Homo sapiens: one gene and its partners. The protein of the gene in region 6 interacts with the protein of the main gene of each other region in a biochemical or structural test. Each region holds a gene or a part of one and is shown on either strand. Other genes may lie near its edges. The genes, in order: CORO7, ARFRP1, KIF13A, SLC2A4, VAMP4, AP1M1 and VANGL2.

Evidence for each region.
Region 1: the proteins of AP1M1 (region 6) and CORO7 interact in a test that uses a peptide from one of them, tested with the Homo sapiens proteins (one study listed by BioGRID).
Region 2: the proteins of AP1M1 (region 6) and ARFRP1 form a complex in vitro, tested with the Homo sapiens proteins (one study listed by BioGRID).
Region 3: the proteins of AP1M1 (region 6) and KIF13A form a complex in vitro, tested with the Homo sapiens proteins (one study listed by BioGRID).
Region 4: the proteins of AP1M1 (region 6) and SLC2A4 form a complex in vitro, tested with the Homo sapiens proteins (one study listed by BioGRID).
Region 5: the proteins of AP1M1 (region 6) and VAMP4 form a complex in vitro, tested with the Homo sapiens proteins (one study listed by BioGRID).
Region 7: the proteins of AP1M1 (region 6) and VANGL2 form a complex in vitro, tested with the Homo sapiens proteins (one study listed by BioGRID).

What each region holds. Positions count from the first base shown.
Region 1 is NC_000016.10:4,361,097-4,364,596, forward strand, and holds part of CORO7 (coronin-7), read right to left. Parts: intron 3,318-3,500; coding exon 3,180-3,317; intron 1,643-3,179; coding exon 1,516-1,642; intron 1,065-1,515; coding exon 889-1,064; intron 374-888; coding exon 265-373; intron 153-264; coding exon 66-152; intron 1-65. Other genes in the region: CORO7-PAM16 protein, read right to left, coding at 66-152, 265-373, 889-1,064, 1,516-1,642, 3,180-3,317. UniProt on the Homo sapiens protein: F-actin regulator involved in anterograde Golgi to endosome transport: upon ubiquitination via 'Lys-33'-linked ubiquitin chains by the BCR(KLHL20) E3 ubiquitin ligase complex, interacts with EPS15 and localizes to the trans-Golgi network, where it promotes actin polymerization, thereby facilitating post-Golgi trafficking.
Region 2 is NC_000020.11:63,701,562-63,704,976, reverse strand, and holds part of ARFRP1 (ADP-ribosylation factor-related protein 1), read left to right. Parts: intron 1-2,759; coding exon 2,760-2,841; intron 2,842-3,076; coding exon 3,077-3,147; intron 3,148-3,415. UniProt on the Homo sapiens protein: Trans-Golgi-associated GTPase that regulates protein sorting. Controls the targeting of ARL1 and its effector to the trans-Golgi. Required for the lipidation of chylomicrons in the intestine and required for VLDL lipidation in the liver.
Region 3 is NC_000006.12:17,981,136-17,984,635, forward strand, and holds part of KIF13A (kinesin-like protein KIF13A), read right to left. Parts: intron 1-3,500. UniProt on the Homo sapiens protein: Plus end-directed microtubule-dependent motor protein involved in intracellular transport and regulating various processes such as mannose-6-phosphate receptor (M6PR) transport to the plasma membrane, endosomal sorting during melanosome biogenesis and cytokinesis.
Region 4 is NC_000017.11:7,280,410-7,284,517, forward strand, and holds the start of SLC2A4 (solute carrier family 2, facilitated glucose transporter member 4), read left to right. Parts: upstream 1-1,308; 5' UTR 1,309-1,525; coding exon 1,526-1,558; intron 1,559-2,835; coding exon 2,836-2,952; intron 2,953-3,063; coding exon 3,064-3,236; intron 3,237-3,328; coding exon 3,329-3,453; intron 3,454-3,564; coding exon 3,565-3,680; intron 3,681-3,807; coding exon 3,808-3,970; intron 3,971-4,075; coding exon 4,076-4,108. UniProt on the Homo sapiens protein: Insulin-regulated facilitative glucose transporter, which plays a key role in removal of glucose from circulation.
Region 5 is NC_000001.11:171,721,566-171,725,065, reverse strand, and holds part of VAMP4 (vesicle-associated membrane protein 4), read left to right. Parts: intron 1-3,500. UniProt on the Homo sapiens protein: Involved in the pathway that functions to remove an inhibitor (probably synaptotagmin-4) of calcium-triggered exocytosis during the maturation of secretory granules.
Region 6 is NC_000019.10:16,204,411-16,207,910, forward strand, and holds part of AP1M1 (AP-1 complex subunit mu-1), read left to right. Parts: intron 1-1,930; coding exon 1,931-1,998; intron 1,999-3,500. UniProt on the Homo sapiens protein: Subunit of clathrin-associated adaptor protein complex 1 that plays a role in protein sorting in the trans-Golgi network (TGN) and endosomes.
Region 7 is NC_000001.11:160,424,564-160,426,866, forward strand, and holds part of VANGL2 (vang-like protein 2), read left to right. Parts: intron 1-554; coding exon 555-815; 3' UTR 816-2,303. UniProt on the Homo sapiens protein: Involved in the control of early morphogenesis and patterning of both axial midline structures and the development of neural plate. Plays a role in the regulation of planar cell polarity, particularly in the orientation of stereociliary bundles in the cochlea.

The DNA of each region.
Region 1 (3,500 bases), on a different chromosome or scaffold from region 6:
CAGGGGTGATCAGGAGCCCTTGGGAGACACTGGCCACCCCAGCCCCATTCCTGAGCCTGCCTGACCTGTGAGCACAGTCTCTGGCGTGGTGAGCACCTCTTCCAGGCCCTCTGCGGGTACCCGCCACAGTCGGATCCTGGCGTCCTCACCAGCTGCAGAGGACAGACAGGGGCTCATCATTGCTGAGCCCAAGACCTCTGGGCTCCCCAGCCCCTATCCGGGACCCAGGACCCTCCCTCAAGCCCAGGCACCCAGCCTCCTTACCCACAGCGAGGCGATGGGGGTCAAAGGGGTCCCAGGCCAGATCAGTCACAGCTGCCCCATTCTGCAGCGTGGGCAGTGCCGTGTCGGGCAGGCGGCCAGGCTTCCGTAGCTGTGGGAGGTGCCCCCACCCCGAGGCCCATCAGTACCAGGCAGAAAAGCCAGTCCCCAGGGGCTGCGGGCAAGCAGCATGTCTGGGAGCCCACCCTCTGCAGCAGAGGCTCCCACCGCTGGGTGACCCAAGCTCTCTGCCCTGACCACCTTGCGCTCTGAGCCCCAAGTGCCAACCACAAGGCCCCAGAGAGTGAGGGGGCAGCAGCGTGAACTGGCGGGAAAAGCTCCGGCTTAGGGCTCAGGTGGCCGGGCTTCGGATCCCAGCTCCACCACTTACACAGCTGTGTGACCCGGGCAGGTCACTAAACCTCTCTGTGCCTCTTCTCCCTCATCTGTAAAATGGGGATAAAAGTGGCAGGCCCCATGGCAGGTGGCTGGGAGGATCACAGGACAGGCGGGCAGGAGCCTGACACAAGGTTTGTGCTCCCTGTGTTGTGTGGGTAGCTAAGGCCCTCCGCGTCTTTGCCACAGGCAGGGAACTGAGGGGCAGCCCTGGTGGGGTGGGGCCCTCACCTCAAGCACAGCCACCTGTCCCCCGCTGCTGAGCAGCGGCACGGCCACACGCAGCTTGTTGGCACAGAAGCCGTCACTCTCACCAGGTGTGGTGAGGTTGAGCCCCTTGAGGTTGGTGATGTGGCTGTCTCGGTGCAGGACAGTGCCCTGAGCATGGCGGAACTTGGAACTGGGGCCTGGCAGGTGGCAGGGACATGGAACCACGTGTGAGGATGCCGTCCCCGCCCGCCCTGCACTCTTTGAGTCCCGGCTGCCCACTCCCCTCACCCCAGGTGGATGTACAGCATGGACCTAGGCCCAGGCCTTTGCTAATCCAGTGGATGCAACTCGCCCAGGAATAATGTCTGGAATGATATACCCTGTTCCATGGTGGCTCGGGGAATCTTGGTGGAGCCCAGGGCTTTGGCTGCTCAGAAGCTGGTGGCCCCAGCCGCCCTCCTATTTTGCAGGTGAGACTCAGCCACCACACCCCAGCCCCCAGGACAAATGACCCTGCCAGTGAGTCTGGGTGAGGGGGGTGCCCTGCATGAGGCCTGTGCTCAGCAGTAGGGTACACAGGAGGATGACGGGGAGTGGGGCAGACAGGGCTCCTGCGGTAGGGGTGAGCTCCCCGTCCTGCCTCCTTACCCAGCAGGCTCTGCAGCGACCTCAAACTGGGGCTGGTCCCGATGCCACTGGTGCTGGAGAGTGAGGGCCCCAGGCTGGAGGGCGTGGAGGGCGAGGTCAGCGAACTGGGAGGGGAAGAGAAACCCTCCTGGGGAGGGGCATGGGGTCAGCCAGCCTGCTCCTAGGTGTACTGGCCAAAAGGAGGGGGTGCCAGCGGACTCCAGGGTCACCACTCTGGGCCCCCTGCGGACTGGAGGAGCCCCCACTGTGGGCATGCGACAGGAGCGGCGGGGGGCACGGGCATAAACGCAGACACACAGGGAAGCAGCCGAGCTTCAGACCGCGGGGACAGCAAGTGGCAGCTGCTGGCTCCCAGCCCTGCAGGAGGGTGTGCCCAGTGGGTTAGATCTGCCAGTATTTTAAGAGAAGCCAGAAATCTAGATCTGTATGAAAATTCTTGCTTTTTAAGTGTTTGCCCAATTTAGAAAGCACTGTGCAAGTTCCTTCTTTATGCTCCACGTGTTTCTCTGTCTCTGTTACACTTGACAAAGAAGGTTGGGGCCAGGCGTGGTGGCTCAAGGCTGTAATCCCAGCAGTTTGGGAGGCCGAGGAGGGCAGATCACGAGGTCAGGAGTTCAAGGCCAGCATGGCCAACATGGTGAAGCCTGACTCTACTAAAAAAAATATAAAAATTGGCCAGGCGCGGTGGCTCACGCCTGTAATCCCAGCACTTTGGGAGGCCCAGGCGGGTGGATCATGAGGTTAGGAGTTCAAGACCAGCCTGGCCAACATGGTGAAAACCCGTCTCTACTAAAGATACTAAAGATACCAATTAGCCAGGCGTGGTGGTGCGCGCCTGTAATCCCAGCACTTTGGGAGGCCCAGGCAGGTGGATCATGAGGTTAGGAGTTTAAGACCAGCCTGGCCAACATGGTGAAAACCCATCTCTACTAAAGATACTAAAGATACAAATTAGCCAGGCGTGGTGGCGCACGCCTGTAATCCCAGCTACTCAGGAGGCTCAGGCAGGAGAATTGCTTGAAACTGGGAGGCGGAGGTTGCAGTGAGCCGAGATCGCACCATTGCACTCCAGCCTAGACGACAGGGCGAGACTCATCTCAAAAACAAAAACAAAAACAAAAATTAGGCCAGGTGCAGTGGCTCATGATTGTAATCCCAGCACTTTGGGAGGCCGAGGCGGGTGGATCACCTGAGGTCAGGAGTTCGAGACCAGCCTGACCAACATGGTGAAACCCCATGTCTACTAAAAATACAAAAATTAGCCAGGCATGGTGGCGGGTGCCTGTAATCTCACCTACTCGGGAGGCTGAGGCAGGAGAATCACTTGAACCCAAGAGGCGGAGATTGCAGTGAGCCGAGATCACACCATTGTACTCTAGCCTGGGCAATAAGAGCGAAACTCTGTCTCAAAAAATAAATTAAAATATAGTCGGCCATGGTGGCACATGCCTGTAATCCCAGCTACTCGGGAGGCTGAGGCAGGAGAATCGCTTGAACCTAGGAAGAGGAGGTTGCAGTGAGCCGAGGTTGCGCCACTGCACTCTAGCTTGGGTGACAGAGTGAGACACTGTCTCAAAAAAAAAAAAAGGCCGTTCAGCCGGTGAACACTCAGGGCAGCCACTGCAGTGTCGCTGAGGGAGGATGGGGGCGGCCCTGGTACTTACGCTTGCGTCTGCATCACCCACGGGTGTCTCCATCACCGCAGGCTGGGCTGTGTCAGGGAGGGGCTCCGCAGGGGGCACCAGACAGGAAGTGAAGCTCGGGTGGGGCCGGCAGGCGGGGTTGAGGCTGACCTTCTGCACCTGCATGGAGGCCGGCAGTGGGGAGATGGGGGCATGGGCTGCCCGGTCAGGAGGGCCCCCATGGGAGGGTCAACTGGGTAGGGATGGGGGGCACCCAGCAGGCCAGACTGAGTTGGCACACAGCCACACGGGGCTACCAGGGACTCGGGGAGGCTGGGAGAGGTGAGCCAGCCCTGGTCCTAC
Region 2 (3,415 bases), on a different chromosome or scaffold from region 6:
CTGTGGTTGGCCCAGCAGGGAGCCCTGGAGGAGAACTGGCTATGCTGTGCCATGTGGGGCCAGGCTGGCCGGGACTTCACACCATGGCCTGGTGGGTCCCCAGTGTGGGCTGCCCTGGGCAGGTGTGACCTGGCAGTGTGGCTCTTTGCAGCCAAAGTGGGTCCCACAGAAACCAAAATGAGACCATCTGCTGGTGCAGTGTTCTCCAACATGAAGCAAGAATACAGTGGGGCCAGAGATGCCTGCACTGGCCACAGCTGCAGCCCTATGTGGACCCACACTTCCACGTTGGAGAGGGGTTCCTCCAAGGTCCTGAGGGCCTCTCTTAAGGCGAAACTGGAAGAGGGAGACTTAAGGGGGCCACTGTAGCCCATCCTTGCTGCTGGTCTTGGGGCTGCACAGCCCTTCCTTGAGTGCCCTCCCAATTCACTACCACTTCTGCTGGGGTGCGACTTCCTGGCAGTCTGAGCCCTTCTCCAGACACCACCGTGGTGGGGCCAGTGGCTCCCTGGGTCCCCAGCTGTGGGACAGCTGTGGGATGGCAGCCCCATCTCCTGCCCACCAGGGTCTCCTAGACATGAGGTGCAAGTCATGCCCATGAGGCAGCTGTGGCTCGTCATTCAGCGTGTCTGCTGAGTATGTGCTGCTCTAGTGGCCGGGACCCCTGACCCTGCTGAGCTCAGAGCTGGGAGGATCAGCTGCAGGGACCCCCCTAGGTCACTGGGAGGGACCGGAAGGGAGGCCCCTGCTCCCACCCTGGTTTCCTGTATCCTGCATCCTTGTGCAGAGCCAGCACCACAGAAAGGGGCGTCATTGCGAATTGGCCTCGTCCTGGGGCTGGACCCTGGGTTGGTGTCCACATGTGTGGCATGTGCCAGGACCTCAGCTCCTGGGTTCTTTGCTGTAACACTAGTCTCTCAGGCTGGCTGGCACTTTGCAGTTGGGGAGCTCCCATTGCTGCTGGGGAGAAAAACTCAGACCCACAGTCCCTCTGACTGCTCCACTGGGGTCAGCTGGCCAGCCAGGAGCCACGCTTGGACACCTCCCTCTTCCCCCTCCTTGTGGGGCACCCCACAATGACCACTGCTGTGACGCCTCCACTGGGGCGTGGGGCTCTGGGTCCTGCCCGCACTCAGCCCTGAGGTGTCGCTCCCGTCCACTGCGGCCCTGCTGGGCTGTGCACCTTGTGCCTGGTAGGTGTGATGGGTGGCTCTGGCCACGTGGTCCCATGGTCCAGGACCCGGTTGCACATGAACCTTCTGCCACCCTGCTCAGAAGCCCCAGGAGCCACGTGGAGATTCTCTCACTGGGCTTGCTGCAGCCTCCACAGAGCCGCCCCTCCTGCCACAGAGGTCTCCACCTTAGGGTCCGCCTGCTCCCTTGTGTCAGCAGCAGACAGCCGGCACACTGCAGGGTCCCTTGAGGGGTTGGCGGCCTCTGTGTGGGACCTGTCTGTAGGCCAGAGAAGTTCCTGGGGGTGGGGGGGCCTCGCTACCTGCAGAACCCTGGAGGGCGCCTGGCCTTGGGCCTCCTCTCCACTGTGGGAAGTTCCTGGGGGTGGGGGGGCCTGGCCTTGGGCCTCCTCCTTTCCACTGTGGGAAGTGCAGGTGCACAGGCTTCTCTCCTCTGTGGGAAGTGCAGGTGCACAAGCTTGTCTGGCACTGGGATGGGGTTGTCTGGTACTCCCTGCTCAGACACCCTAAGGATTTCGGAGAGTTGGGCTGTGCCTCCTGGCTTCTCATGCTCTCGGGTGTGTGTGTCTTAACACACTGACCACCAGCTTGTCCTACCTGGTCAGCATCCAGTTCTAGGTCTCTGGGCACTCATGCCTGGACAGGAGAGCTGGCACAGCCTGGAGGCAAAGTGGCAAATGTGAGCTGTTGTCTGCTCCACGTGGACGCGGAGTTTGCTGTGTTTTTTTCTGATTGAGATAGAGGTGCACTCATCTGGTCCAGGGCTCAGCACTTGTACCTGAGGCTGCAGGGGCTGTGCCCTGTCTTGCCCAGGAGTGTTGCCAGCGAGCCCAGGACTGACCAGCCCAGGCTGCAGAGGTCTGAGCTCAGTGACTCTGGCCCTGTCCTGGCAGGGAAGGCTCGCTTCGTAGATGGCGCTGGTCAGTCTTATCCGCATGGCCACACTCCCTCCCTGTGCGAGGTGCTGGCACAGAGCCCCACAGGTGCACTCCCTCAACGGGCCAGGCTGTGGTCTAGGTTCCTCCAGCCCCCAAACCCTATCTTTTTTTTGAGACAGGGTCTCTCATTCTCACCCAGGCTGGAGTGCAGTGGTGTGATCAGAGCTCACTACAGCCTCAACCTCCCAGGCTCAAGCCATCCTCCCACCTCAGCCTCCCGAGTAGCTAGGACTGCAGGCGCACATTACCATAAGCTTTTGTACAGACGGAGTCTCACTGTGTTGCCCAGGTTGGCCGTGAAGTGGGCTCAGGTGATCCTCCTGCTTCTGCCTCCCAAAGTGTTGGGATAATAAGTGTGAGCCACCACGCCTGGCCCAATCCCTGTCTTTCACCTTTGGCCACCATCAGGCCAAAGGTTGCCGGCAGGTTCTCAGGAGCAGCGTCTGGGGACACCTCCACCAGATCTCCCCGCAACCCCAGAATGCATCCCAGAAGGGTCTTGCAGTTGGGGGCTGCCCTCTTGCCCCTTCCTCATGTGAGCCCCTCACTGTGGCCATGACACAGGCCTGGCTCTGCTGGCCCTTGGCAGGGTGGGGACTGAGCCCCAACTCCTGGTGCTTCCTCCCAGTATTATGCGGAGTGTCACGGCGTCATCTACGTCATTGACTCCACCGACGAGGAGAGGCTGGCTGAGTCCAAGCAGGCGTTTGGTGAGTGCGGCCTGGCTGCTCTGGGAGGGATGGATGGTGAGTGGGGGCAGGTCCAGCTTGGGCAGCTCTGTGCCTGGGGCAGGCTCAGTGTCTGGTCAGAAGTGCTCCTGCCTAGTGGGTGACGGGGGGGGGGGGGGCAGAGGGAGTGGCTGTCACAGTGTCCACGCCTGTGGGCCCCTGGGCAGTCAGAGGCAGGATGCTGGGTGTGAGGCGCTGCCTCTCCTGCCCTCCCCAGAGAAGGTGGTGACCAGCGAGGCGCTGTGCGGTGTCCCCGTCTTGGTGCTGGCCAACAAGCAGGATGTGGAGGTGAGCCCCACCCCTGCCTCCCGCAGCAGCTTCCCGAGTCCCCAGCCTCCCCCACAGCAAGGGGAGCAGGTGTGCACCCAGACACCCCAGGCCCAGTGACTGCCCAGGGGGTACAGAGCCATTCTCAAGGCCTGCCCTGCCCCCAGCAGCTTCCCAAGCCTGGTTCCTCTCCAGACCTGCTGCTGCCAGCCCTGGAGGTTCTCCCACCTCAGGGCAGGCGCCCAGAGGCCTCTTCCTGCTATGCAGGGCACCTCTCCCCAGGAGGGCG
Region 3 (3,500 bases), on a different chromosome or scaffold from region 6:
ACTAAACCTATGTTTTTCAAAATATAAGTTTATGACTCATTAGTGGGTTGAGAAATAATTCGGTAAGACATAGCCATTATTTTTTTAATGAATTCTAACAGAAGGGGATAGAAAATAAAAGACATTGCATACAGTTAAGAGTATTTTTTCATAACCTTTGAAATATACATATCCACATAAACAGGTTCATAATGTAAAATGTATTTTTAACTGTTGACTGTCAACAAAATAATATAACCACTCTAAACTACAATGCATTATAATTACTTTTAGTTTTGTTTTTCTTTTTTCTTTTTTTTTTTTTTTTTGAGACAGAGTCTCGCTCTGTCGCCAGGCTGGAGTGCAGTGACATGATCTCGGCTCACTGCCACCTACGCCTCCCGGGTTCAAGCATTCCCCTGCCTCAGCCTCCCGAGTAGCTGGGACTATAGTCACACACCACCACGCCAGGCTAATTTTTTGTATTTTAGTAGATATGGGGTTTCACAATGTTGGCCAGGATGATATCGATCTCCTGACCTCGTGATCTGCCTGCCTCAGGCTCCCAAAGTGCTGGGATTACAGGTGTGAGTCACTGAGTCACTGTGTCCGGCCTTATTCTTTGCTTTCTTACAATTAACTCTGTAATATGGGCAGAGAGAAGAATAACAACACAGAAAAGAGAATTCAAAGTCCCACAGGTGATTTTATAATGTGGAGTATTACTGCTTCTTAGGTGACTTATCTTTCTAATTATGTATGACTTTCACTAATATTTAAATTTCTGGTCTACAGAGACACAGGAGCCAAGGAACCATCCTAGAAGCCTTCAGAATGGCGGAGGAAGCCAGCTTAGAAATAAAAACTTGCAATATTTACAGACTGAATAGCCCTTATCTAAAATGCTTGGGACCAGAAGTGTTTTGGATTTTGAATTTTTCTTGAATTTGGAATATATGCATTATATACTTACCAACTGAGCATTCTTTTTTTTTTTTGAGACAGAGTTTCACTCTTGTTGCTCAGGCTAGAGTGCAATGGCTCGATCTCAGCTCACCGCAACCTCGGCCTCCTGGGTTCAAGTGATTCTCCTGCCTCTGCCTCCTAAGTAGCTGGGATTATAGGTGTGCACCACCACACTCGGCTAACTTTTGTATTTTTTTAGTGGAGACAGGGTTTCACCATGTTGGCCAGGCTGGTCTCGAACTCCTGACCTCAGGTGATCTGCCTGCCTTGGCCTCCCAAAGTGCTGGGATTACAGATGTGAGCCACTGTGTCTGGCCCCCAGGATTTGGAGCATTTTAGATTTCAGATGTTCAGACAGGGATACCGCTGGTGAATAAACTAAAAAATACATACAAAGTTTAGTAAGAGGAAGCTTTCTTCAACTGACCCTCCCTCACACGATTTGCAAGGTGTATTGTTCATCCTGCCATATGGAAAAAATGAACAGGAAGCTAAAAACTTTCATGCTCTTCTACCGAGAGCCCATATTTAGCCCAACATTTTATTTTTACACAGTAGGTTAGATATGCACTTTATTTTGGAGTCTTACCTTACAATTCACTTACATAAAATAATTAAGAACAAAAACTTCTGTAGAAAGCAAGTTCCACTATATTCTTTTCACAGCACAGCATCACTTCCTAAAAGTCACGGGGATCAGACCCGTAAGCCAACCACCTATATTTTAAAAACCACCACTACCATTCACACTGAATGTAAAAAAGAATGAGTAAGTCTTAATATGCTGATATTGAAAGATACCAAAGGGGGCCAGGCGTGGTGGCTCACGCCTGTAATCCCAGCACTTTGGGAGGCCGAGGCAGGCGGATTACAAGGTCAGGAGTTTGAGACCAGCCTGGCCAACATAGTGAAACCCCGTCTCTACTAAAAATACACAAAAAAATTAGCTGGGCGTGGTGGTGGCCGCCTGTAATCCCAGCTACTCGGGAGGCTGAGGCAGGAGAATCGCTTGAACCCAGGAGGCGGAGGTTGCAGTGAGCCGAGATCACGCCACTGCACTCCAGCCCAGGTGACAGTGCGAGACTCCATCTCAAAAAAAAAAAAAAAAAGAAAGCTACCAAAGATATTTCTTAAAAAATATATAAATACTTATTTGTGTATATAGTTGTATTAAAAATGCACATATATATCTGGAAAAAAAGGCATGAGAACTAAATGACAGTGGCTACCCATTTTCCGAGAGGTGAAGAGATGGGCAAAGTAGGGATGACAGCAGGGGTGAAGAGGAAGACATTTCACTGTGTATGTCACCCTTTTTAGCAAGTTAGGGATTCTCATTCCATTGCTCCCTTCACCCCACTCCATCCCTTCACCCACACCCACCCCACCCCCAAAACTGTCTTGCTGCTGCTGCTTTTTTTTTTTTTTTTGAGATGCAGTCTCACTCCGTTGCCCAGGCGAGAGTGCAGTAGCACGATCTCAGCTCACGGCAACCTCCATCGCCAAGGCTCAGGCGATTCTCCTGCCTTAGGCTCCTAGGCAACTGGGATTATAGGTATGTACCACTCGGCTAATTTTTATATTTTTAGGAGAGACAGGGTTTCATCGTGTTGGCCAGGGTGGTCTCAAACTCCTGGCCTCAAGAGATCCGCCCACCCTAGCCTCCCAAAGTGCTGGGATTACAGGTGTGAGCTACCTCACCCAGCCCAGAACTACCTTGCTTCTGAATGGTACTCCACCCCCTCACCTCACACACATACAAGCACCCAGAAGCAATGTGTTGCAGGTATGCTTTCACTTTCATTGGCAAAGGACTCTCTCCTCGTCTTGCAAAAGTGAACCTATGCTCTCAGCATCCATAAGACCACACAAACACCACCTGTCTTGGCAAGTTGACAGGACCTTGGGTAGCATCCACAGCCCCTCCTCAATGCTCCCATCACATTTGCTAAGCCCTTGCTAAGTGCCAGTATGCAGGAGCATGAGGTACAAAGAGAAGTAGGATAAGGTACCTACCTGCCTTCAAGCAGTTCACAGCCTCCAGGGAGAGAAAGAGGAAACAGAGAATTTTGAAATTATGTGGTTCATGAAATGGCAAAAGTATACACCAGCGTAATTTACCACGTTGTATTTTAACTACTTTTTCCTCTCTCTCCTCCTTCTCTCCAAGGTGAGTGACTCTGGTGTAGGTACTGGATCCACAAGTATCTTTGAATCCCCTATGCTGAGCATGGTACTGAAATGATCTGAACTTCATAAATGTCTCCTGGAGAGCAATGCAATGGTATTTTAAGAAACAAATCCATGTGTCTTAATGTTTCAGAATGGTGATCAGTATACATATCAACTACTAACCTGGACCTATGCAATGTATTACAATACTAGAATTTCAGCAACAAAACAAACATCTTTAACCTCAGAGATCCTCTGATCTTTTAGTCCTAGCTACACAGTCTTGGCTTTGGTTTTGTAAAATGGGGAAACAATGAAAGCTGACCCCATCTGTTTTTTTTTTTTTTCCCTGGACGTCAATGCATTCTCACTTGTTTTTACTG
Region 4 (4,108 bases), on a different chromosome or scaffold from region 6:
GAGGTCAAAGCACCAATGTTGGAAACTAACTGGATAAACGAGGAGAGCGGCGCAGGACAGGAGGAATCGAGCCTGACTTCTACCATAGGGGTGACTGGGCGGGTAATTCATTGAAATAAGGAAGTTAGGAGGAGGAGCAGGTTTGGACATGCTGATCACTAGAGCTGCCACATCCGGGCGGTAACGAACACCTGGATCTGCAGCTCCAGAGAAGGGCCTGGGTCAGATGTCACTGAAGCCCTATGGTGGCGGAAAGGCGAGAAATAGTGGGTTGAGATTCCAAGTGCAATCCACTGCGGCTCCTCGCTCGCCCTCCAGGTGGCAGCACAACCCTGCGCTTCCGAAGCCCGTTTTCTGAGCCAGACACTCTCCACGCTCTGGGTATTTCGGCTTCTCTCTCCCCACACGCCGACCCTAGGTCGCGCACTTTCTGCCTGGCAGAATTTGGCCGAGGATCCAAACCCGGAGCAGCCTCCAGAGAGCGTGTCGTTCACGCGGCCAGCATATGCTCAGAGACCTCAGAGGCTCAGAGACCTCAGGGCTGGTGGTGTGGTCGGTTGTGACCACTTGTCCCTCGGACCGGCTCCAGGAACCAACCTGGGGAATGTGTGTAGGGGAAGGGCGGGATAGACAGTGCCCGGAGCAGGGAGGCGCTGAAAGACAGGACCAAGCAGCCCGGCCACCAGACCCGTTGTGGGAACGGAATTTCCTGGCCCCCAGGGCCACACTCGCGTGGGAAGCATGTCGCGGACTCTTTAAGGCGTCATCTCCCTGTCTCTCCGCCCCCGCCTGGGACAGGCCGGGACGCCCGGGACCTGACATTTGGAGGCTCCCAACGTGGGAGCTAAAAATAGCAGCCCCGGGTTACTTTGGGGCATTGCTCCTCTCCCAACCCGCGCGCCGGCTCGCGAGCCGTCTCAGGCCGCTGGAGTTTCCCCGGGGCAAGTACACCTGGCCCGTCCTCTCCTCTCAGACCCCACTGTCCAGACCCGCAGAGTTTAAGATGCTTCTGCAGCCCGGGATCCTAGCTGGTGGGCGGAGTCCTAACACGTGGGTGGGCGGGGCCTTTTGTTCCAGGGACTCTTTTCTCAAAACTTCCCAGTCGGAGGCTGGCGGGAACCCGAGAGGCGTGTCTCGCCAGCCACGCGGAGGGGCGTGGCCTCATTGGCCCGCCCCACCAACTCCAGCCAAACTCTAAACCCCAGGCGGAGGGGGCGTGGCCTTCTGGGGTGTGCGGGCTCCTGGCCAATGGGTGCTGTGAAGGGCGTGGCCCGCGGGGGCAGGAGCGAGGTGGCGGGGGCTTCTCGCGTCTTTTCCCCCAGCCCCGCTCCACCAGATCCGCGGGAGCCCCACTGCTCTCCGGGTCCTTGGCTTGTGGCTGTGGGTCCCATCGGGCCCGCCCTCGCACGTCACTCCGGGACCCCCGCGGCCTCCGCAGGTTCTGCGCTCCAGGCCGGAGTCAGAGACTCCAGGATCGGTTCTTTCATCTTCGCCGCCCCTGCGCGTCCAGCTCTTCTAAGACGAGATGCCGTCGGGCTTCCAACAGATAGGCTCCGAAGTAGGATTCATCATGAGGGGGCGGGGCGGGGGGGCACGGGTCCCGCTTTTCTTGGGCTGGGGTCGCGGTTGGGGTCAGCTGGGGGTGGTTCCTGCGCAGGCGCAGGGGGTGAAGGTAGGGGGCTGGCTATTTATACCCGGCCTGGACAACCCGTGACTGTGAGATTCCAATCCTACCAAAAGGCAGAGTGGGTCTGGAGGGCCTTTCGGGGCACAGGCAGCAAGTGGATTCTGCGAGCCAGGGTTCACCCCCTTGCCTAGTAGGCGGCGCGGCGCTCCGGAATCGGGGACACCCTGCCCTCGATCCGACTCGGGAAAGCAGATCCAGGCGGGTCTTGCCCTCCGGGAGCTGTCCGTCCGTCTTCGCTCACGGGCAGTGTTTCGAGGACCGGAGGCTCTCCGTGGGCCCCCACCCCCACTCCTGGCCGCCCTCCAGGACGCTGAACTTTCCCTTGGCCCCATGGTTGGTGGAGGGGCAGAGGGGACTGTCAGCCCCCCCTCCTCCAGCTCAGGTTTCCGCTTGGAGACAGTCTGTGCCGCCAGCGAGCGGCCACCACTGCCACCGCCCCTCACACTACCTTCCTGCCCTCCTCCCCTGGGCATGGCTCTCCCAGGCAGAACCCCTGGACGGCCCTCCCTGCACGGAGGTTAGAGGGGGAGGGCAGGCCACGACGTAGATAGAGAAGGCCACCCCTAGATGACCGGGATGTCCTTTCTGGAACAGCACTTCTTGGTCCTGTTGGGGGCCTCCTGGAGCTGGCTGACAGAACCCCCAGAGGGGAGGGAAGAGGACAGTGGCTGATGATAATAATGCACGTGTTAATTTATGAAACCAGCACTGTCAAGGATATTGTTAACATGTGATGTTGATTTTCACAACACTCTCACAGATAGGTAGGCAAGGCAGGCAACATCACCCCCATCTCACAGAGGACACTCAGGTTCGGGGCAGGGAAGTGACTTGGCCAAGGTCACACAAATCTGAGCTCTTAAGGCCAAGCCTGTCTCAAGGTCACAGAAGAATTTTGAGACAAGTTCTCAAACATTTCTCTGCCTTATGGACCCAAACATCCAGTTTCTCCTTTATGCCCAGGTTGCAGTTCAGCTCCTGTTTACATTGAGATCTTTGTGCAATTCCTAATATGGCCCAGTTTCCCTCACCCAACATGTTGGGTGGAGCCCAGTATCTTCAGGCTCCAGCTGGGCCCGGGCCCCTAGCGGAAGGAAAAAAATCATGGTTCCATGTGACATGCTGTGTCTTTGTGTCTGCCTGTTCAGGATGGGGAACCCCCTCAGCAGCGAGTGACTGGGACCCTGGTCCTTGCTGTGTTCTCTGCGGTGCTTGGCTCCCTGCAGTTTGGGTACAACATTGGGGTCATCAATGCCCCTCAGAAGGTGAGGGCCTGCAGCTGGCAGGGTGGGGGTACCCAAACGAGGAGGACAGGTGTCTCGGGGGTGGTGGAAAGGGGACGGTCTGCAGGAAATCTGTCCTCTGCTGTCCCCCAGGTGATTGAACAGAGCTACAATGAGACGTGGCTGGGGAGGCAGGGGCCTGAGGGACCCAGCTCCATCCCTCCAGGCACCCTCACCACCCTCTGGGCCCTCTCCGTGGCCATCTTTTCCGTGGGCGGCATGATTTCCTCCTTCCTCATTGGTATCATCTCTCAGTGGCTTGGAAGGTTCGCAGCTGGAGGGCAGGGGTGGGGGAAACAGGAAGGGAGCCACTGCTGGGTGCCCTCACCCTCACAGCCTCACTCTGTCTGCCTGCCAGGAAAAGGGCCATGCTGGTCAACAATGTCCTGGCGGTGCTGGGGGGCAGCCTCATGGGCCTGGCCAATGCTGCTGCCTCCTATGAAATGCTCATCCTTGGACGATTCCTCATTGGCGCCTACTCAGGTACTCACGGGCACCACAGCCCTGCCTAGCGCCCTGTTCTCTTTCACCATGCCTGGGCTTTCAGATGGGAATGGACACCTGCCCTCAGCCCTCTCTTCTTCCCTCGCCCAGGGCTGACATCAGGGCTGGTGCCCATGTACGTGGGGGAGATTGCTCCCACTCACCTGCGGGGCGCCCTGGGGACGCTCAACCAACTGGCCATTGTTATCGGCATTCTGATCGCCCAGGTGACCGGAGCAAGCCTCATGGGTGCCTGGGCAGTGGTTAGAGTGGGGCTCTGGAGAATATGGTGGGCTTCCAAGGTAAGGCAGAAGGGCTGAGTGACCTGCCTTCTTTCCCAACCTTCTCCCACAGGTGCTGGGCTTGGAGTCCCTCCTGGGCACTGCCAGCCTGTGGCCACTGCTCCTGGGCCTCACAGTGCTACCTGCCCTCCTGCAGCTGGTCCTGCTGCCCTTCTGTCCCGAGAGCCCCCGCTACCTCTACATCATCCAGAATCTCGAGGGGCCTGCCAGAAAGAGTAAGCTCTCCCGCTGCAGCCTGGCCCAGGCCCATGCCTCCGCCTCATCTTGCTAGCACCTGGCTTCCTCTCAGGTCCCCTCAGGCCTGACCTTCCCTTCTCCAGGTCTGAAGCGCCTGACAGGCTGGGCCGATGTTT
Region 5 (3,500 bases), on a different chromosome or scaffold from region 6:
AGAGTTTCAGTTTTGAAAGATGAAAAAGTTCTAGAGATGAATGGTGATGACAGTTCATTAAGTGAATTACTTAATGCCACAGAACTGTATGCTTAAAAACGGTTAAAATAGTAAATATATGTTATATATATTTACCACAATAAAAATTTATTGACTATATATGTGTGGCTCTATTTCTGGACTCTATGTGTCTTTCTTACATCAATACCATAGTAATCACTATCCTGAGTACTACGACTTTATAGTAAGTTGTGAGGTAGTGTAGTGTATATCCTTCAACTTTGCACTGCCTTTTGAAAGTTCTTTTGGCTATTGGAGGCTCTAAGCATTTTCATATAAATTTTAGAATCATCTTGTCAGTTTCCAGCAAGCCTGCTAGAATTTTGGTTGAGATTATATTGAACCTATAGATGAATTTGGGGATAATTAACATCTTAACAATATTTGGTTTTCTGACCCATGAGCATAGTATATCTTTTTATTTATTTGGGTACTTAATTTCTCTCAGCAGTGTTTTGTAGTTTTCAGTGTCCAGATGTTGTATTTTTTTCTTTGTCAAATTGATCCTTAAGTATTTTCTTTTATTTTTTATTATTATACTTTAAGTTCTAGGGTACATGTGCACAGTGTGCAGGTTTGTTACATATGTATGCATGTGCCATGTTGGTGTGCTGCACCAGTTAACTCATCATTTACATTAGATATATCTCCTAATGCTATCCCTCCTCCCTCCCCCCACCCCATGACAGGACCCGGTGTGTGATGTTCCCCACCCTGTGTCCAAGTGTTCTCATTGTTCAGTTCCCACCTATGAGTGAGAACATGCGGTGTTTGGTTGTCTGTCTTTGCGATAGTTTGCTCAGAATGATGGTTTCCAGCTTCATCCATGTCCCTACAAAGGACATGAACTCATCCTTTTTTATGGCTGCGTAGTATTCCATGGTGTATATGTGCCACATTTTCTTAATCCAGTCTGTCACTGATGGACATTTGGGTTGGTTCCAAGTCTTTGCTATTGTGAATAGTGCCACAATAAACATATGTGTGCATGTGTCTTTATAGCAGCATGATTTATAATCCGTTGTGGGAAGTCAGCGACCCCGAATGGAGGGACTGGCTGAAGCCATGGCAGAAGAGCATAAATTGTGAAGATTTCATGGACATTTATTGGTTCCCCAATTTAATACTTTTATAATTTCTTACACCTGTCTTTATTGCAATCTCTGAACATAAATTGTGAAGATTTCATGGACATTTATCACTTCCCCAGTCAATACTCTTGTGATTTCCTGTGCCTGTCTTTACTTTAATCTCTTAATCCCGTCATCTTCGTAAGCTGAGGATGTATGTCGCCTCAGGACCCTGTGATGATTGCATTAACTGCACAAATTGTTTGTAAAGCATGTGTGTTTAAACAATATGAAATCTGGTCACCTTGAAAAAAGAACAGGATAACAGCGATGTTCAGGGAACAAGGGAGATAACCATTAGGTCTGACTGCCTGAAAGCTGGGCAGAACAGAGCCATATTTCTCTTCTTACAAAAGCAAATAGGAGAAATATCACTGAATTCTTTTTCTCAGCAAGGAACAGTCCTGAGAAAGAGAATGCATTCCTAGGGGAGGTTTCTAAAATGGCTGCTCTGGGAATGTGTGTCTTATATGTTGCAGATAAGGGATGAAATAAGCCCTGGTCTCCCAGGCCTATTAGAACGAGGAAATTCCTGCCCAGTAAATTTTAGTCAGACCAGTTGTCTGCTCTCAAACCCTGTCTCCTGATAAGATGTTATCAATGACAGTGCGTGCCCGAAACTTCATTAGCAATTTTAATTTTGCCCCAGTCGTGTGATCTTGCTCTGCCCCCATTTGCCTTGTGATATTTTATTGCCTTGTGAAGCATGTGATCTCTATAATCCACACCCTATTAGTACACTCCCTCCCCTTTGAAAATCACAACAAAATCTTGCTGGTTTTGCGGCGTAGGGGGGCATCACAGAACCTGCCGACACGTGATGTCTCCCCCAGACACACAGTTTTAAAATTTCTCTCTTTTGTAGTCTTTCCCTTTATTACTCAGACCAGCCGACACTTAGGGAAAATAGAAAAGGTCCTATGTTGAATTATCGGGGGTGGTTCCCTTGATATAATCCTTTGGGTATATGCCCAGTAATGGGATGGCTGGGTCAAATGGTATTTCTAGTTCTAGATCCCTGAGGAATCGCACACTGACTTCCACAATGGTTGAACTAGTTTACACTCCCATCAACAGTGTAAAAGCGTTCCTGTTTCTCCACATCCTCTCCAGCACCTGTTGTTTCCTGACTTTTTAATGATCGCCATTCTAACTGGTGTGAGATGGTATCTTATTGTGGTTTTGATTTGCATTTCTCTGATGGTCAGTGATGATGAGCATTTTTTCATGTGTCTGTTGGCTGCATAAATGTCTTCTTTTGAGAAGTGTCTGTTCATATCCTTCGCCCACTTTTTGATGGGGTTGTTTGATTTTTTCTTGTAAATTTCTTTACGTTCTTTGTAGATTCTGGATACTAGCCCTTTGTCAGATGGGTAGATTGTAAAAATTTTCTCCCATTCTGTAGGTTGCCTGTTCACTCTGATGGTAGTTTCTTTTGCTGTGCAGAAGCTCTTTAGTTTAATGAGATCCCATTTGTCAATTTTGGCTTTTGTTGACATTGCTTTTGGTGTTTTATTCATGAAATCCTTGCCCATGCCTATGTCCTGAATGATATTGCCTAGGTTTTCTTCTAGGGTTTTTATGGTTTTAGGTTTAACATTTAAGTCTTTAATCCATCTTGAATTAATTTTTGTATAAGGTGTAAGGAAGGGATCCAGTTTCAGCTTTCTACATATGGCTAGCCAGTTTTCCCAGCACCATTTATTAAATAGGGATTCCTTTCCCTATTTCTTGTTTTTGTCAGGTTTGTCAAAGATCAGATGGTTGTAGATGTCTGGTATTATTTCTGAGGGCACTATTCTGTTCCATTGGTCTATATCTCTGTTTTGGTACCAGTACCATGCTGTTTTGGTTACTGTAGCCTTGTAGTATAGTTTGAAGTCAGGTAGCGTGACGCCTCCAACTTTGTTCTTTTGGCTTAGGATTGTCTTGGCAATGTGGGCTCTTTTTTGGTTCCATATGAACTTTAAAGTAGTTTTTTCCAATTCTGTGAAGAAAGTCATTGGTAGCTTGATGGGGATGGCACTGAATCTATAAATTACCTTGGGCAGTATGGCCATTTTCACAATATTGATTCTTCCTATCCATGAGCATGGAATGTTCTTCCATTTGTTTGTGTCCTCTTTTATTTCGTTGAGCAGTGGTTTGTAGTTCTCCTTGAAGAGGTCCTTCACATCCATTGTAAGTTGGATGCCTAGGTATTTTATTCTCTTTGAAGCAATTGTGAATGGGAGTTCACTCATGATTTGGCTTTCTGTTTGTCTGTTATTGGTGTATAGGAATGCTTGTGATTTTTGCACATTGATTTTC
Region 6 (3,500 bases):
CCGTTTGAGCCCCAGCTCCAGCAGCCATGGGGGATCCCTCACCTTCCCACAGTTCAGTGGGAACAACGACCCCTCACTGCAGGACCATTCGGGTCAGTTGAACTGACTTGTGCATATTGCTCCCAGCAGGCATGGGCTCTGTGCCCTTTCCTGTGTTCTTGGAGACACTTGGGGCCTTGCCAGTACAGTGTGGCCAACGGGCCAGAATATCCGCTGGGAGCCCTTTGGAAATGCAGAATCCCAGGCTCCACCCAGCCCTGCCCCGTCAGAATCTGCATTGTAGGAAGATTTGTTCCTGGTGGCCGGTGTGCACATTCCCATGTGGGCCGTGCTGGCCCAGGGCTCCCTGTGGTGTGCCTCTGTGTAGATTTCACCTGGCTCTGGAAGGCCCTGAGAATAGCTCTGAAGATGATCTTAGGTGGCTTTTTTTTTTTTTTTGAGACAGAGTCTCGCTCTGTCGCCCAGGCTGGAGTGCAGTGGCGCCATCTGGGCTCACTGCAAGCTCCGCCTCCCGGGTTCGCGCTATTCTCCTGCCTCAGCCTCCCGAGTAGCTGGGACTACAGGCGCCCGCCACCACGCCCAGCTAATTTTTTTGTATTTTTTTAGTAGAGACAGGGTTTCACCATGTTAGCCAGGATGGTCTCGATCTCCTGACCTCGTGATCCGCCCGCCTCAGCCTCCCAAAATGCTGGGATTACAGTCGTGAGCCACCGTGCCCGGCCTAGGTGGCTTTTAACCCAGGGAACTGACAGTCCTCTGAAGCCGCCCAGGTATTGGGAGAGGGAGAGGTGGCTGTGGTCTGAGCTCAGCAGGAGCCATCAGATCAGTTTCTGGTTGGGCCCCCACATTTCACACCTGGGCATCTAGGGAAGAGACAGGGAGGGCTCACCCCTCTGGCTTAGTGGACATCGTTTCACCCCCAGCCGGGACAGTGCTCAGCAAGGCCGTGGCTGAGAGGCACCCATGAGAAGGTGAGAGGCCCCCACTGCCCCTGCTTATAAAGCATCTGGGGAGGGCACATTGCCAGGCAGCAGGAGGGAGGCCAGCACTCGTTTGACTGGGCCAGCGTCCCTTTCCTGGGCCCCTGTGCTGTGCTGGGGTGAGGCGGGAAGGGAGAGGATACAGCCCCCACCCTCCCTCCTAGAGCTCACTCCTGGGCAGACGAGCCAGGCAGCACAGATGTGCCATGAACAGGGATGTCCAGGGTGCAGTGCATGGGCCTACAGAGGAAGAACCAGCCTTCTCTGGCGGCCCGGGGACCCATTAGGGAAAAAGGAATAGGAAGCGCCCAGCACACACTGACCCTGGGAGGCAGGGGCTGGCTCCTGTGGCAGAAGGGAACATCTGTGCCAGACATCTCACCTACATTGCCTTGGTGAGTTCATTCACAGGCCTCCATTACACAGGAGAGAAATATCAAGGTTTCTCTAGAAAGGTTTATTTCATGGGCCAAGGCTTGTGTTTCCAAAGCCAGGAAGGGCTGAAGCCAGAATTGGCCCTGGCTGCTTGCCACAGAGTCTGGCCGGGGGACCCTGGACCTCAGCAGGGTCATGATGAGGTCAGCTTTGGAGGAGCAGGGCCAGTGTGTCCTGCTTTCTGCTCCTGGAATGAGCCTCACTCCCTCCCTGCTCAAGGCAGCCCTTCACCCAGCCGCCGGGACAGGTGCCCTGTGCCACCTGCCATCCCTGTGATTCTCCATCTCAGTGAGTGCTCCCTGGGGCCTGGGAGCGCATCTGGCTGGTGACTCCTGTGTCCCAGGTCTAGCTTGGACCAGGAGCTTTGTAGCCCACCATGGGCCAAGTAAACGGCTGGGAGTGGGGATAGGGAAGGCTCTGAGGGTTGTGAGGGTTAGGGGGTCCCTCCATGAACCAGGATCTTCCAGGCAGCAGCCCCAGCCTCTGAATGCTCCTTAACTGTGGCCGCCATGCAGTGGTTGCCACATCCAAGAAGAACGCGTGCGTGTCGCTGGTCTTTTCTTTCCTCTATAAGGTGGTGCAGGTGAGTCTCGCTCGGAGGGGCCGTGGGCTTGGGTGGAGGTTGTCTTGGCTCTGCTTGTGGACCTCCCCATACCTGGCCACCCTACAGAGAGCTGTGGCATCCCCAGGGAGCACTGGGGCTGGAAGCCCAGGAAGTGGGAAAGGGGAGTCCCAACTCCCCACGCCTGTGGAATTCTATAGCTCACGTTGCTCCCCTACCGTGGGGAAGAAAGGAAAGTGAACAGGAAAAGGTAGGGCTCAGAGCAGGGGTGCCCTGACCCTGGAAGGGACAAGCAGGGGTCAGCGAGCTTTGGAAGGATGTGGGGTGACCAGCTGGATGGGGCTGGAATAACCAGCAGAGCTGCAGAGCTGAGCCCACCTCAGAATCTCCCAGGGGGCTCTCAAGGCACAGATGCCTGACGCCCACCTTGGAGAGAGCTGACACGCCAGGCCCAGGCTGCCAGTGAGACACAGATAGCAGCCAGGGTGAAGGCGCCAGGACAGGTGTATGTGTGGTGCAGCTAGGGAGGCCAGCGTGCGTGTGGCAGAGTATGAGGCTGAGGTCAGCTGGGAAGAGGGCGGATTATACAGGAGTGTGGATTTCATTCCACTTCTGATGAAAGGTAGTGGAGGGCTTTAAGCAGGAGACTGACAAGACGTGGTTTGATCTAAAGCAGCCTCTCTGGCTGCTGAGCAGAAGGAGGACTTGAGGCCAGTGAGGAGGCTGCTGCTGGCTTCCCGGAGAGGATGGGCCTGGCCGAGGTGGGCTGTGGGGCTCACGAAAGTGGGGAACAGGACCCAGGAGGCCTGTGCTGGGCCTGGGAAAGCTTTCATCCCTCACTGATGCTGCCTGTGCAGAATGTTGGGGAACAGGGGCAAGCCTGGGCGGTGAGGGCTTGGGGAAGGAGCCGAGGGTCACCTGGGAAGGCCCCACGTGCAGGCCAAGGGCTGCCTTCACTGGACCGGTGATGCTGTCACAGGCAGGGCTGGGCCTGGCTGTGCTGCCTGTGGTTTCCAAGCAGAGGCCGGGTGATCACAGTCCTGAAGCGCGCAGGGGTCAGCAGATCAGAGAATGGGGGATGCGGGAAGGGGAAGGTCCTCACCCAAGGGTTGGGCTGTGCCTTTCTGTTTTAGTGACGCTCCTTCCTTCAGCATTTGTGCCTGCAAAAGTGCTTCTAACAGCCCCTCTTCTTTGGCGTCCCTTCCTTAACCTTCTGAGCTTTCCATTGAAATGGGGAAGATGCATCAAGCTTTCCACTGAAATGGGGAAGATGGCAGCTCATCAGGTCCTTGCCTGAGTCACTCCAGACTCAGAAAGGGATGACAGTTACAGTCGCTCAGGAGGGGCTGCCTGTCTGCGGGTGTCTGGGCAGGGAAGAGAATGGGAACGCAGAGCTTCTGAAGGCCTCGGGACATCTGCAGTGGCTCCAGCCTGGCCCCACCCCACAGCCAGCCACTGCTGTCCTGCCCCATAACCTGGGTCCAGGGCCCTGTAGCACACCACCGAGCCTGGGAAGTAGGCTG
Region 7 (2,303 bases), on a different chromosome or scaffold from region 6:
CCAAAGGCCCACTTTCACCTCCATTACCCTCTTCACCTCCACTAGCTGGTCTTGGCTTTGTGTCATTTTGAGCCATTGCCCACCTTCAACTCTATTGCCAGCTTCCTAGAATTGCTTTCCCTGAGCCACCCTTGGTGAGCAGGTAACTAAAGATGTTGCACTTTAACCTTGACACCTTTGGCTCCCTCCTGGTGCAGACCTGCTTGGCACGAATCATACAAGCTGTGTGGGAAGGAAGGAAGAATGAGGGAGGGCTTGCCCAGGTCACAGCCTGGTGCAGGGAGAAGAGCAGCAGATGGGGGTCAGGGGAGCCGAGTTCAGTCCTACCTGATGAGCCACATCCCCCTGTGCACTCCGGCTTCTTCATTTATAAAATGAGGGTCTGAAGCAGATGATCTCAGGCCCCTTCCTGCTGTAACATTCTGAGGTTCTAGTTCATATGCATAGAGTGAGCTCAGGGACGTCCTTCTTGTCTTTGGAAACTATGACCTAGGGGATGAAGGACCGTGGGTAGATGACAGAGATTCTTATGCAGCCCCTTCTTTCCACTTCAGGCCTTCTTGGAGCGATACTTGGCGGCTGGACCTACCATCCAGTACCACAAGGAACGCTGGCTGGCCAAACAGTGGACATTGGTGAGCGAGGAGCCGGTGACCAACGGCCTCAAGGATGGCATCGTTTTCCTCTTAAAACGCCAGGACTTCAGCCTGGTGGTCAGCACCAAGAAGGTCCCATTCTTCAAACTCTCCGAGGAATTTGTGGATCCCAAGTCACACAAGTTTGTCATGAGGCTGCAGTCTGAGACCTCAGTGTGACTGTGCAACAGCAGGGGGAGTGGGAAACTCTGGGGGGTCCTGAGGGGGTGGGAGGGGGCTTGGTTCTCAGGCCCAGCCACATTCCTGCCACCCTTCTTCTTCTTGCTCTTTTTTTTTTACTTGAATTAACGCACCCCCACCTTCTCTCCTCGCTTCTTCCTTATTTTACCCCATGTGAACCTGGAGAGACCATCCTGCTGTCAACAGTACCTGGGAAGGACTCCCACCTCACCAACAACTTTTGTATTACTCTAGGCCCTGCAGGAATCAGTGCCTCTCTCCCTCTTCTTTCCCTAGTCTTTTCCCAGATTACAGTCTCTCCTGAAAGGGCACAGGGCCCTGCTGATTGTACTTTCCCCTCCTGAGCCCCGACTCACAAATCCAAGTTCTTAAAACATTTCTCTTCAGTGGCCCAACAGGGTTTCTCTGGGGCACATGGACATGACTCCAGAGAGCCACAGTGCCAAACTCCTCCAGGGCAGCAACTGGCCCTCCTGTCCCTCACCCCAGCCACAACAAACCCTGGGTTCTAGGGCAGGGATACTCCTGCCACACAGCCCGAGTTAGAAATCTCCTTGCTAGGAGCATTTGCTTCCACATATATTTAGAGCAAAGAAGGATCCCATCCTTTTCCCAGAAATCTCCACCTAATGTTTTTGGTTTGTATGGTCACGTGACCATAGGCAACCACGTGGAAACCCTCTGTGACCACTTTTCCAGGGACTTAGGGGAAGGTACCTTTCTTCCAATGTGTCTTCCTAGGCAGCCCCTGAGGAGGAGGGCTGAATAGATCCCTGAGGTTTTGGAGAGACCCCCATCACTGACTCCTGCTCCCTAACCCTACCCTCACTTTCGTCCCCGCTCTTCCCAGTGAAGGATGGTATGTAGACTCCTGTACAGACATAGTGGCTTGCAGACCCTGACCCAGCCCCTGTGGTCTTAGACAAATGTTTTTATTTTTGTCACCAGCCACCCCTGTCCTGCCGCCTTCTCTCGACTCCAGAGACCTGTTGCCTCATCTCTTTTGGGGAAGAGCCGGCAGCTCCTCCTCATCCCCTGCCTTAAGTCCAGTTCTTTGCCTCAGGGGTCTCGTTTCCTTGGCCTTCCAGGGTCCCCACCCCTTTTCTCCCTGCCTGATTCTCTGAGCTCTGGGCTCCGTCTGTATTGGGTTGAGGGGCAAGGATTACTGCCTTTTGTAGGTACTTCACCCCTCACCCCATTTTAGCTTCCATAGTCTTTGCACCAAATCCAAATTCTTGATAATTTAGATCTCATTTTGAGCAAAATTTGCTGGCCCTCTAATAAATATTTTCAATATAAATCTGAGCCTTTGACTCAGACATTTTTGCCAAGGAGAGTAGAATTAGGAAGTACCCATATACATCCAGCCAGGATCCACATGGAGGACCTTTCTGATGGCTGCAATGACTAGGCCATTCCTCTGAGTAACTCACAGTGTCCTTTTGTAGGCCCTTCTTTTCCCTGAAA